Homo sapiens: one gene and its partners. The protein of the gene in region 3 interacts with the protein of the main gene of each other region in a pairwise test. Each region holds a gene or a part of one and is shown on either strand. Other genes may lie near its edges.

Evidence for each region.
Region 1: the proteins of CA12 (region 3) and KATNBL1 interact in a two-hybrid assay, tested with the Homo sapiens proteins (one large-scale study listed by IntAct).
Region 2: the proteins of CA12 (region 3) and RDH11 interact in a two-hybrid assay, tested with the Homo sapiens proteins (one large-scale study listed by BioGRID and IntAct).

The regions. Positions count from the first base shown.
Region 1 is NC_000015.10:34,144,017-34,147,668, forward strand, and holds part of KATNBL1 (KATNB1-like protein 1), read right to left. Parts: intron 3,415-3,652; coding exon 3,364-3,414; intron 3,274-3,363; coding exon 3,184-3,273; intron 2,835-3,183; coding exon 2,745-2,834; intron 1,476-2,744; coding exon 1,382-1,475; intron 1,237-1,381; coding exon of another isoform or gene 1,222-1,236; exon of another isoform or gene 953-1,221; intron 1-952.
Region 2 is NC_000014.9:67,682,149-67,685,800, forward strand, and holds part of RDH11 (retinol dehydrogenase 11), read right to left. Parts: intron 3,057-3,652; coding exon 2,867-3,056; intron 1-2,866. UniProt on the Homo sapiens protein: Retinol dehydrogenase with a clear preference for NADP. Displays high activity towards 9-cis, 11-cis and all-trans-retinol, and to a lesser extent on 13-cis-retinol.
Region 3 is NC_000015.10:63,379,714-63,383,465, forward strand, and holds the start of CA12 (carbonic anhydrase 12 isoform 1 precursor), read right to left. Parts: upstream 2,134-3,752; 5' UTR 2,008-2,133; coding exon 1,923-2,007; intron 1-1,922. UniProt on the Homo sapiens protein: Reversible hydration of carbon dioxide.

The DNA of each region.
Region 1 (3,652 bases), about 29 Mb from region 3:
TGGTAACAAACTTGGTTGATATATCATTTTGCTTCTTTTTTTTGAAGGTATCTGAGAAATTTTTTTTTTTGGGAGAGGGGCCATGGTCTTCCATAGCAATGGCCAGAGCTCCTCTGTGGCTGTCACTTTGACAGGAGATAAGCTTCTGGTTGGTCACTGTTGGTATCACTCCCATTTGCTTTTCTTCCCTCAGCTACATTAATTCCCTGAAAGCTTCTGTCTCCTGTAAGAGCTGAACTTATCTTGGAGTAGAAGCCAGATTATCCCTCAAGGCTACCTAGGTTTGCCCAAGCCTCTGTTTCCCTTAGCATTGTATTTTTTTCCCCCTGAATTCTAAGAAGTTGTTTTGTCTCCGAGAAAAATGTTATAACTAAGTCCATGACATAAATCCTCTTATTTAGAAATATATATATATATATATTTTTAAAACCAAAGAATGCTTTTTATATTCCTGGCTAATGCCCATTTATGATAGCAGTATGCCCGGTAATAAAGTAAAAGTATTTCTTAATGACAATTTTTTCTTCAATTAATTTTTAACTACTAATGTTTTTTCTTTCTTTTTTTTTTTTGAGACGGAGTTTCACTCTGTTGCCCAAACTGGAGTGCAATGGCACGATCTCAGCTCACCACAACCTCCGCCTCCCAGGTTCAAGTGATTCTCCTGCCTCAGCCTCCCGAGTAGCTGGGATTACAGGCACGTGCCATCACACCCAGGTAATTTTTTGTATTTTTAGTAGAAACGGGGTTTCACCAACCAGGCTGGTCTCGAACTCCTGACCTCAGGTGATCTGCTTGCCTTGGCCTCCCTAAGTGCTAGGATTACAGGCGTAAGCCACTGTGCCCGGCCTAACTACCAATGTTTTCTGGAGTTTAAATATTAAAATTCAAACTAGCAATTTTTACTTTTTCCTTTACGAGACAAATCAATAAAGACCAAAGTCAAATTCACTGTGATTTAAATAGTTTACCTTCTCAAAAAGCATAACATTAGCAAAAGTAAAACTTAATCTCCAAAACCATTTAATTATGTTTCTTATCCCTTGTTTCCTGAGTTCCTCGTCTTGTTTTCTGATGCTGTCCTTATTGGATTCTCAAAATTTTTTCAAATACTTTTCTCTGATTAAAACCCTCTGTAAATATCCTCTAGCATAGCATTTCAGGGGCTGTACATGAAACATGTTCAATGGCCAATTCCTGTGCTTGCTGCCAAGGTCACAGTTACACGCAGAGGACCTGAAGCATTTGAAAATATGAAATTGACTTTAGACATTAGAACAGTACCATATTATTTTGCCTAGAGACTTGAAAATTAATTTATAAATGTAAAATATTATTTCTAATTTTTAATGTTTAATTTATAAGCTTAAATATAGATTACCTTAGCTATATTACCAGTATATCCTGGAACCAAAGTAAGATGGTTTTCCTGTTCCCATAATCCACTTAATTGTTGTTTTAAAATTTGAATATTTCTAAAAGAAAAAAAAGGAAGAAAAATGAGAAAGCAAATACATTAAGATACAAACTTTCATCATAAATATGCATAATAAAAACTGTTCTAAAATTTTTCAGGTATTTTTCAGGAGAAAATGATGCTATTTGAAATAAAACATTTGGGAACGTGGAGAGAAATTAAAAAAAAATCAAATAACTTTTAGAATAATACATGTCAGTCATGAAAATTAAAGGTTTATCCACATAATACCGCCAAATGCCTCCTATTTAATTAATTCTTGGAAACAACAAAGGATGTTTTTTCAATTCCAAAATTAATAAAATTTCTTACTTGATTTCAATTAAAAAAAAAAAGAAAATTAAAGGTTATTTAGTTGTCAAAGCAGGTAAGAAAATGACCAGGCGTTTGGAACATTTGGACATTCCTTGGTGTGAAGTAGAAAATTTTGAGAGCCTACAAAATAAATTGTGGCTTTTTTTTTTTTTTTTTTTGAGACAAGGGCTGGCTCTATTGCCCAGGCTGGAGTGCAGTGGTGCCATCTCGGCTTACTGCAACCTCCACCTCCTGGGCTCAAGCGATCCTCCTGCCTCAGCCTGAGTAGCTGGGACTACAGGCGCACACCACCATGCCTGGCTAATTTTTGTATTTTTTGTAGAGACGGGATGTCATCATGTTGCCCAGGCTGTCTCAAACTTGTGAGCTCAAGTGATTTGCCCTTCTTGGCCTCCCAAAGTGCTGGGATTACAGACAGGCATCAGCCACCGTGCCTGGCCCAAAATTATGGACTTTAAGGAAACTGTTGGGAGATATTTTTCTGTGGTTTCATGATAATCTGGCTATACTCTGGTAGAATACCCACGAATTTTCACATCAAGGCAGTAATAATACAGTTTTTAGAACTGTAAACATCAACACCGGACTCTCAGGTTAATGTCTAGGTAAAGGACCCCGCAGGGTGCCTCCATTCCTTATTACACTGTGGGCATCTCTTTTTCCTCCCTTACTCATAATGAATATGAGAATTAAACCACTATTGTGTTTTTCTTCTAAAATGAAGGGTAGGGTTGTGCCAGAAGAAGAGATACAGGAGGTTAGTAGGCTCTGGAATTCAATTTCCAGGTGTGGTTTTCACAAATGAACAGTCTCTTAAGTTAGTATCTCTCTGAATATAAAAAGAATAAATACCATACACTGATGATAATGGGATAAAATTATTACCTAGTTTAATCAAGCTGCTTTCCTGAAGAAAATTTCAGCATGAGTTTATCTTTAAAGGTATACTCACCCATCATTTATAATTTCTGTTTTGGATGATAGTTCTGACCACCACCTTTTAATGACTGCTTGAAGCCAGTTTAAACCAACTATAACATATCTGAAATGACATTTTGTTACAAAATTCAAGTGTTTTCATCTAAGAACCCTTCTTATAAAAGATGATACTTTCCCTCCCAAAAAACACACACACACATTGGTCCCTTCCCTTTTAAAAAATTGTTACCTTCATGATCTATTACACAAAAGTATATTTCATGTAATTTGTTTAGAGATGCTTTTATAATTGTCCTTTAGTCATTTCATATTCTTTTCCTAATTGTACTATTAGCTTCTTGAAAACAGAAACCTTGCATGTCTCATGGAGCCCAATCTACTATGTACTCACAAAGCACAAAATCAAGGATGCTGAAAAAGAAAAATGAATCAAGATTCAGATTAGCACTTACTCTTCAAATTTGCTTTTAAGTAGTGACTTTACTAGAGGCAACAAGTCAACACAGCAGCCAAGTGAGATATATTGTTTTTCTTCCTGTAAACTAAAATAAATACCAAGTTATAAAAATATGGATGGGCCATAATTTGACCTCCTTTAATCTTATTTTTTTTCTGAAAAATATTGTTTTTACCAATTGGTGAGCACAGGAAGGCAATCTACCACAACGCCAAGATCTTCTATCCTGAGAGTATAAAAAGAATAGCATTGCCTTAGAGAGCTGATTTCCTTATTTACTTTCATATTATGATTATTCACACCGCTTTTGAGAAATTCATTCATTTAACAATGTCAGTATCTACAATGAGTCATGTCTGTGGATACAGCAATGAACAAAGACACAGGGCTTGTATTCCAGTGTGTGAGCAACTGTGGGGGTTGGGGGGTGGGACAGAGACAGGCAATAAACAAATAACAAGACA
Region 2 (3,652 bases), on a different chromosome or scaffold from region 3:
TCTGTTTAGTAACAGAAAACTGTCTTTACTAAAGACAGTAGTAAATCTTTGTGACCTTGGGTAAGGCAATGATTTCTTAGATATGACTGCACAAGTGACAAAAAATAGATAAACTGGACTTCATCAAAATTTAAGTTTTACATTTCAAAAGATACCATTAAGAAAGTTAAAAGACAACCCACAGAATGAGAGAATATTTGCAAATTATATATCTGACAAGGAACTCGCATCTAGACTATTAAGAACTCTTGTAACTCAACAATAAAAAGACAATTATCCAACTTAAAAATGGGCAAAGGACTTGATAGACATTTCCCCAACAAAGAAACAAATGAACCAAAAAGCGCATGAAAGAATGTTCAACATCATTAGTAGGAAAATGAAATGAAAATAAAAACAAGATATTCCTTCATACTCACTAGGATGGCTAAACTCAAAAGGAGAGACAATAACAAGTGTTGCTGAGGATGTGAAGAAATTAGAATACTCATAGACTGCTGGTGGGAATGTAAAATGGGGCAGTCATTTTGGAAAAGTTTGGCAGTTCCTCAGCAGTTAAACACAGTTACCATATAACCCAGAAATTCCACTTCCATGTACCCAAGAGAAATGTCCACACAAAAATTTCTACACAAATGGTCACAGCAGTATTATTCAAATAGCTAAAAAGTGCAAACCCAAATGCCCATCACCTGATGAATGAATAAATAAGATGTGGCAAATCTATACAATGAAATGTTATCCAGCAATAAAAAGAAATGAAGTACTGACACATGCTTTAGCATGGATGACCCTTGATAACATTAAGCTGAGTAAAAGAAGTCAGTCACAAAAGGCCACATACCATATGATTCCATTTATATGAAATGTCCAGTAAAGGCAAATTCTTAGAGACATAAAGCAGACTAGTGGTTGCAGGCAGAAAGAAGAGCCAGTGCAAAAATCTTAAGGCTTCAATCAAAAGACTTTTATGTTCATTTCTTGATGGTGGTCTACACGGCTGCTGTTGGATCTTCAAAATGAATTAAGAATCCATAGCACAGGAAAGGCTCTTCAAAAGTCAATCCAATAGTAAGTTATGGATTTAGAGCTGACTTTCTTTAAACCACTCAGTCAAAACCAAGATAAAGGGTTATTTTTTTTTTTCTTAAAATCTCTAGGGAAGAAGAATCCAGTCACTCTTGGAAAATCAATCCAGTATACTATATAAATCTATCTTCTTATACTTCAGAACCACATTTCCAACTATCTGCTATACATTTCTACTTGCATGCCTTATAGATAACACACATGCAACATGTACAGAGCCAGGTTTGTTACACAGTGGACAACTGTTACTCTTTGGCTGAACATTCTACTTTGTTTCGGCAATAGCAACCTGATTTCCTTCTGCAGAATCACCTTTTCCCCTCAATATAGTTTGAAGAGAGCATTAATAAAGTCCCTGTTTGCCTCTAATCAAAAGAGTAAAAATGAAGGGATAGGAGGAAGGAGATCCAATGCTTCCTCCCTAGAGAATGGATGATAAGCAATACAACCTAAACACTAAAGATAGCTGGCATTCGCTCACTCTAGCAGCAATGCCCCGGCTGGCTGACTGCCACTCTGACACTTCTTAGCCTGGCTCTTCAGTCTTCCCTTTCAACCTAGGGGTCCCTCCTCTCCCTACTAATATTTTAATAAATTTCCTTCTTGCTTAAGCTAGACAAAGTCCCTTTCAACTGCTTTGGAATCCAAGAACCCTAAGTTCCACACATTACTTTTCCATGTCTGCTGTCTTAGTTAATGTCATCATCAACCTCATTCAGGCTTGAAATTCAGGTTAGCAAAGCCTCCCTCATCCCCTCATTTAATTAATCATCCAGTGATAAAAATTCTGCTGCTTCAGGGCCTCTTTCACATTACCATTCCTTTCATTACAACTTTCTGAAACTCTCTCTCTCACTAGGTTAATTATTCATTCATGAAACAAAGTTGCTAAAGCACAGACCAGATTTTGTCTGTCTACTGAAACAACTCTGGGGCTCCTCCACAAGGCTGGCATTATAGGCCTCTCATAATCTGTCTGCCTTTCTTTCCAATCTTAATGCTATTTTCAGCTACTTCCTTAAAATTTCAGGTCATTTCAACAATAACCTGAAGTAGAGGTAAAAACATGTTAAAATTTTGATCTTATGTGATGCCTGGGATTTGCTTCAAAATAATATGGGAGAAGAAAAATATGGAAAGGGGTAGAGAATGGGGATAGGGCAGAATTGGCCATGGGTTAATGGTAGCTGAGGCTCCATTATATGCAGGCTCAGTGCACTATTTTATCTAACCCTGTGTTATATTCAAAATTCTCTACATTTAAATCATTTTAAATGTCTTCGCTTATTTGAGAGGGGAGTCCATAGTATTTCAATCCTGAGGACAATAGAGAAATGCAGATTCAAATTCTTTTTTTTTTTTTTTGAGGCGGAGTTTCACCTGACCTTAGGTGATCTGCCCACCTTGGCCTCCCAAAGTGCTGAGATTACAGGCGTAAGCCACTGCGCCTGGCCTCAAATTCTTTTTAAATTCTTTTTAATGTAAAACAATAGAATTAGGAATCCAAAAAAGAATAAAGAAAACTGGACTGACATAACAAAGACAGGAAGAAAACAAACAGAATGCATAATTATCAGTATAAAAGATGGCATAAAATCAAATGTAGCAGTTATTACAAAAGAGAGTCAAATTCCCCTACTAAAAGGTAAAAACTCTAGAGTTAAAAGACAAAAGCTATATGAGACAATGTACTTTTAAAAAAGGGTATACCCAGACAAACCCAAATTATCTCCTTTGAGCAATAAATCTCATCTGCAAAAAGAGATAACATTCATACCTGAAATGATTCCCACTTAGAATCTCAAGACCTTCTGTTAAGGCACAGTGCAGGCTGGTCTGGGCTCCCTGCTGAGGAGTCTTGATGAAAAAGGAGAAAAGCCACCACATCCATCTCATGAAAGATGAGTGCCGAACCAGTTCAGATTGGACTGTGCCAGGGTGTACAGAATACGTCGTAACGCCAGAGCCTGGTTGGGGGTGGCATGAAGAGAGGGTAAGACAGGACTTGATTTTGCAGAATAGCCCAAAACAGAAAAGGATGTAAATAAGCATGTGACCTTCACATATGGACTCTTTTGCCCATGGTGACATCAGAAGTACTGCTCACAGTAATTTATACTTCCATCTCACAGATCTAAGAAGGCTCTAGAGTAGACAGTGCTAAGGACCTCTGTGTATTTCTGACTGGAAACTCAAGTCAGGAATCAGCAGAGCCAAGACTCATCCTCTCAGCAGCACTTAACATCGTTGACCACCCCCTTCTTTTTTAGAGATGGGGTCTCCCTATGTTGACCAGGCTGGTCTTGAACTCCTGGCATCAAACAATCTTCCCACCTTGGCCTCCCAAAGTATTAGGATTACAGGCATGAGCCACCACACCCACCCCATCCCCTTCATTTTTTTGAGACAGGCTTGCTGTGTTGCCCAGGCTGGAGTGCAGTGGCATGATCTTCCTTCTGCCACTGCCTTCCAGGTTCAAGCGATTCTCCTGCCTCAGCCTCCCAAGTAGCTGGGACTACAGGGGTGCGCCACCACACCAGGCTAATTTTTGTATTTTTAGTGG
Region 3 (3,752 bases):
CCTGGGCCCTGCCTGCTTCCTGTGCTGGGTGCTAGAACTTTCCCTGAGTAACCATCTCCTGGGTAGCCCAAGACTGCCTGGCTCTCCACACCAGGTTTGGGCAGGGCAAGCTCTGCAGAATTCACTGAAATGCCCCCCAAAGCCACGGCAACTAAGAATTCCAAGGGTTTCTCCAGAAGACACTTGACTTCACATTATTATGCTCCCTCCTGGGCCCCTGACATTGTTCTTGAACATTCTCCAATGCTGGAAGTTTAAATGCACCAGGCAGAGAGCAGATCACACTTTGACCCCATTACTCAGCTTAACTCCTCTCCACCTCCAACTTTGGGTTCATGCTGACATTCTACACCTCAGTGATTTTTGCTTTGACCTGTCCTCTAAGGCAGTTAAAAACCCAAGGAAACTGCATGAGAATTTACAGAATAAAAGCTGTGCTCTACCCAGGGGTAGGCAGTCTCCTTCCTCAGAGTGAGGCGAAAGTGGAGTTTTGACTACAAACTTCCCCAGTCCCAACTTGGAGAATTGGGAGAGGAGATAAGGAGGAGGGAAAGGGAGAGGGAAGAGGAAGAGCAGGGAAAGTAGGGAAGAAAGGAAGGGGAGGGAGGGAAGAGAACAGGGAAGGGCAGGAAAAGAGAGAGAAGGGAGGCAGAGCTGCCCCAGAGTGAGAGGAGCAACCAGCTATAGGAAAGAGGGCCAACTAATGGCTGTTTCTCCCTTTGGTCTTGGAGCAACTTAGGACTAAAGAGATTTCCAGGGAAACTTTGGTCTCAGTGCAGCTTTCGTAAAAGGAAACATGTAAAGTTTGTGGTTTTAAAACTTGATTTTCACTTTTACATCGCTCCTTTCTCCCAACTTCTGTTACATCGCTTCTGTTTCTCCCTGACCAGATGAGGGAGATAATATCAAGCACATCATGCCAGCTAGTTGACTGGAATTTAATTAAGAGTTATCCACAGCCTGGCTCCCCTGCCCTTCCCCATGGGCACTGTGACCTCCAAGAGAGGAGGCTCAGAGCTTTTATGCTGCTGAGCAGGACACATTTCCCACCACCACTGCCTCGCCAGGAAGAATCTAGTTTCAGCCAGTAAAATCACTTTCGGTCCAAAATCACTTTCTTATTCCAAAAGATTAATGAACCAGCCTTGGCTGTACACGTGTTAGCTCACTGGCCCGGCGTGAGCCCACAGTTCAGGTCCCCTCTGCCACCTCCTCCTGTCACTCCACGGAGCCTCCATTCAGTCCCTCAGCCTCCAGCCTTTTGGGATTTAGTGTTCTAATTACAATCAGAAATATGCTGTGTGTGTGTGTGTGTGTGTGTGTGTGGTTTGTGTGCGTGCGCGCGTGCGTGTGTGTGTGTACGTGCACACACACGTACATTCAGCATAGTAGAGCCCTCCTGGAGAAAAACAATGATTAAGAATGGGATGCATCATCCCTTTGACTTGTAGGTAAGACTTAATGGTAAAGATCCTCTCCTCCAAAGAAAAGCGCCTACCACTGTCTGCGGGTTCTGCACAGGGGCACAGCAAACCTTTCTCTGTGCTTACCCCAATCAGAATGCCACAGTCATGTCTCTACTTTCTAAACGTGGATCAGGGGAACGCTGTTTTAAATCTTGGCTTTGCATCTCCTCCCTGGTTAGCAAGTTCCCAAGCCACATCTTCAGAGCTGGCGGTGCCCGGGAGTACACGCAAACATTTTAACACCAAATCTGCGCCAAGCGCCACTAGAAAGCAACGTGCTTCCCGACCCAACCTCAGCAAAGGAAAACGGAGCATCCTTTCTTGAGAATCTACTATTTGGTACTACACCTTCCCTGCTCCCCGCAGCAATGATTTTACTTTATCATTGAAGAGCCTTCAGCCCAGGGGCGGCTGAGCGCTCAGGAGTGTTAGGAAAGAAGCAGGCGGAAACTTTACCGTTCACTGGGGCCGGGCTGGAAGGCTGTTCCTTTAAGATCACCAGCAGGAGCACGGCCGCCGCGTGCAGGCTGCGCCGGGGCATCTTCGCGGGCTCCTGCGGGGCGGGCGCGGGCTGTGCCGGGGGCTCCCGGTGGCCGCTCGCTCTCCAGCTGCACACCGGGACCGCGTGCGCGCAGCCTGGGTGCCGTGGCGAGTACGTCCGCCCTTCGCTCTCCTGGCTTCCCCGGGCAGCTTTTATGGAGCAACTCAACGCCAAACACTTGATGTCATCGTGCGGGGAGGGGGTGGGGGAGGAGAACGCCCTGCCCACCGGAGGGCTGGCGCCCCAGATCCTAGGTGAGTTGTAGCCTTGACTTCAGCAGCACTCTGCGGGTCCCCGGCGCTCCTCTGGGCCAGGGCTGACCCAGGAACACAGTTCTCCGAGGAGCTGCTGGCAGGCGTGGGTGAGATCCGCCTGTCTCACATCCAGAAGGGTGCGTCTAGGGATTCCTTCAGTGGCATGCCCTTGGTCTGTCACTGGTCCTGTAACAGCCCAACGAGTTCACCTTGCCCGCTGCTTAGACAGAGCCCATTTATCAAGACAGGGGAGTTGCAATGGAGAAAGTAATTCACGCAGAGCTTGCCGTGCCGGAGACCGGAGGTTTTCGTTCCTTTGTTTGTTTGTTTGAGACGGAGTCTCGCTCTGTTGCCCAGGCCGGAGTGCAATAGCGTGATCTCGGCTCACTGCAACCTCCGCCTCCCGGGTTCAAGCGATTCTCCTGCCTCAGCCTCCCGAGTAGCTGGGATTACAGGCACATGCCACCATGCCCAGATAATTTTTGTATTTTTAGTAGAGGCGGGGTTTCGCCAGTTTAAGGCTGGCCTTAAACTCCCGACCTCAGATAATTCACCTGCCTTGGCTTCCCAAAGTGCTGGGATTACAGGCGCCCACCACCACACCCGGCTAATTTTTCTAATTTTAGTAGAGACGGGGTTTCACCATGTTGGCCAGGCTGGTCTGGAACTCCTGACCTCAAATGATCCACCTACCTTGGCCTCCTAAAGTACTGGGATTCCAGTACTCAAATCAGTCTCCCCAAGCATTCCGGGAGTTGTTTGTTTGTTTGTTTGTTCAGACGGAGTCTCCCTCTGTCGCCCAGGCTGAAATGCAGTGGCATGGTCTTGGCTCACTGCAACCTCTGCCTCACGGGTTCAAGCGATTCTCCTGCCTCAGCCTCCTGGGTAGCTGGGATTACAGGCACGCGCCGCCACACCCAGCTAATTTTTGTATTTTTAGTAGAGACGGGGTTTCACCATGTTGGCCAGGCTGGTCTTGATCTCTTGATCTCGTGATCCACCTAAAGTGCTGGGATTACAGGCGTTGAACCACTGCACCCTGCCTCTGGGAGTTTTTAAAGATAATTTGGCAGATAGGGGCTTGGGACTTGGGGAGTGCTGATTGGTCAGGTTGCAGATGGGATCACAGGGGGGTTGAAGTAACGTTTTCTTGCAGTCTTCTGTTCCTGGGTGGGATCGCAGAACTGGTTGAGCCAGATCACACACGGTCTGAGTGGTGTCAGCTGATCCATCCAGTGCAGGGTCTGCAAAATAGGATGTTAGATTTTACAATAGCGATGTTATCCCCAGCAGCAACTTGGGAAGGTTCAGACTCTTGCAGCCTGACGCCGCAGGACCCCTAAACCATAATTTCTAATGTTGTAACTAATAGATTAATCGTACAAAGGCAGACTGGCACCCAGGCAAGAAGGGGGTCTTTTCGGGAAAGGGCTATTATTGATTTTGTTTCTGAGTCAAACCATAAACTGAATTCCTTTCTAAGGTTAGTTT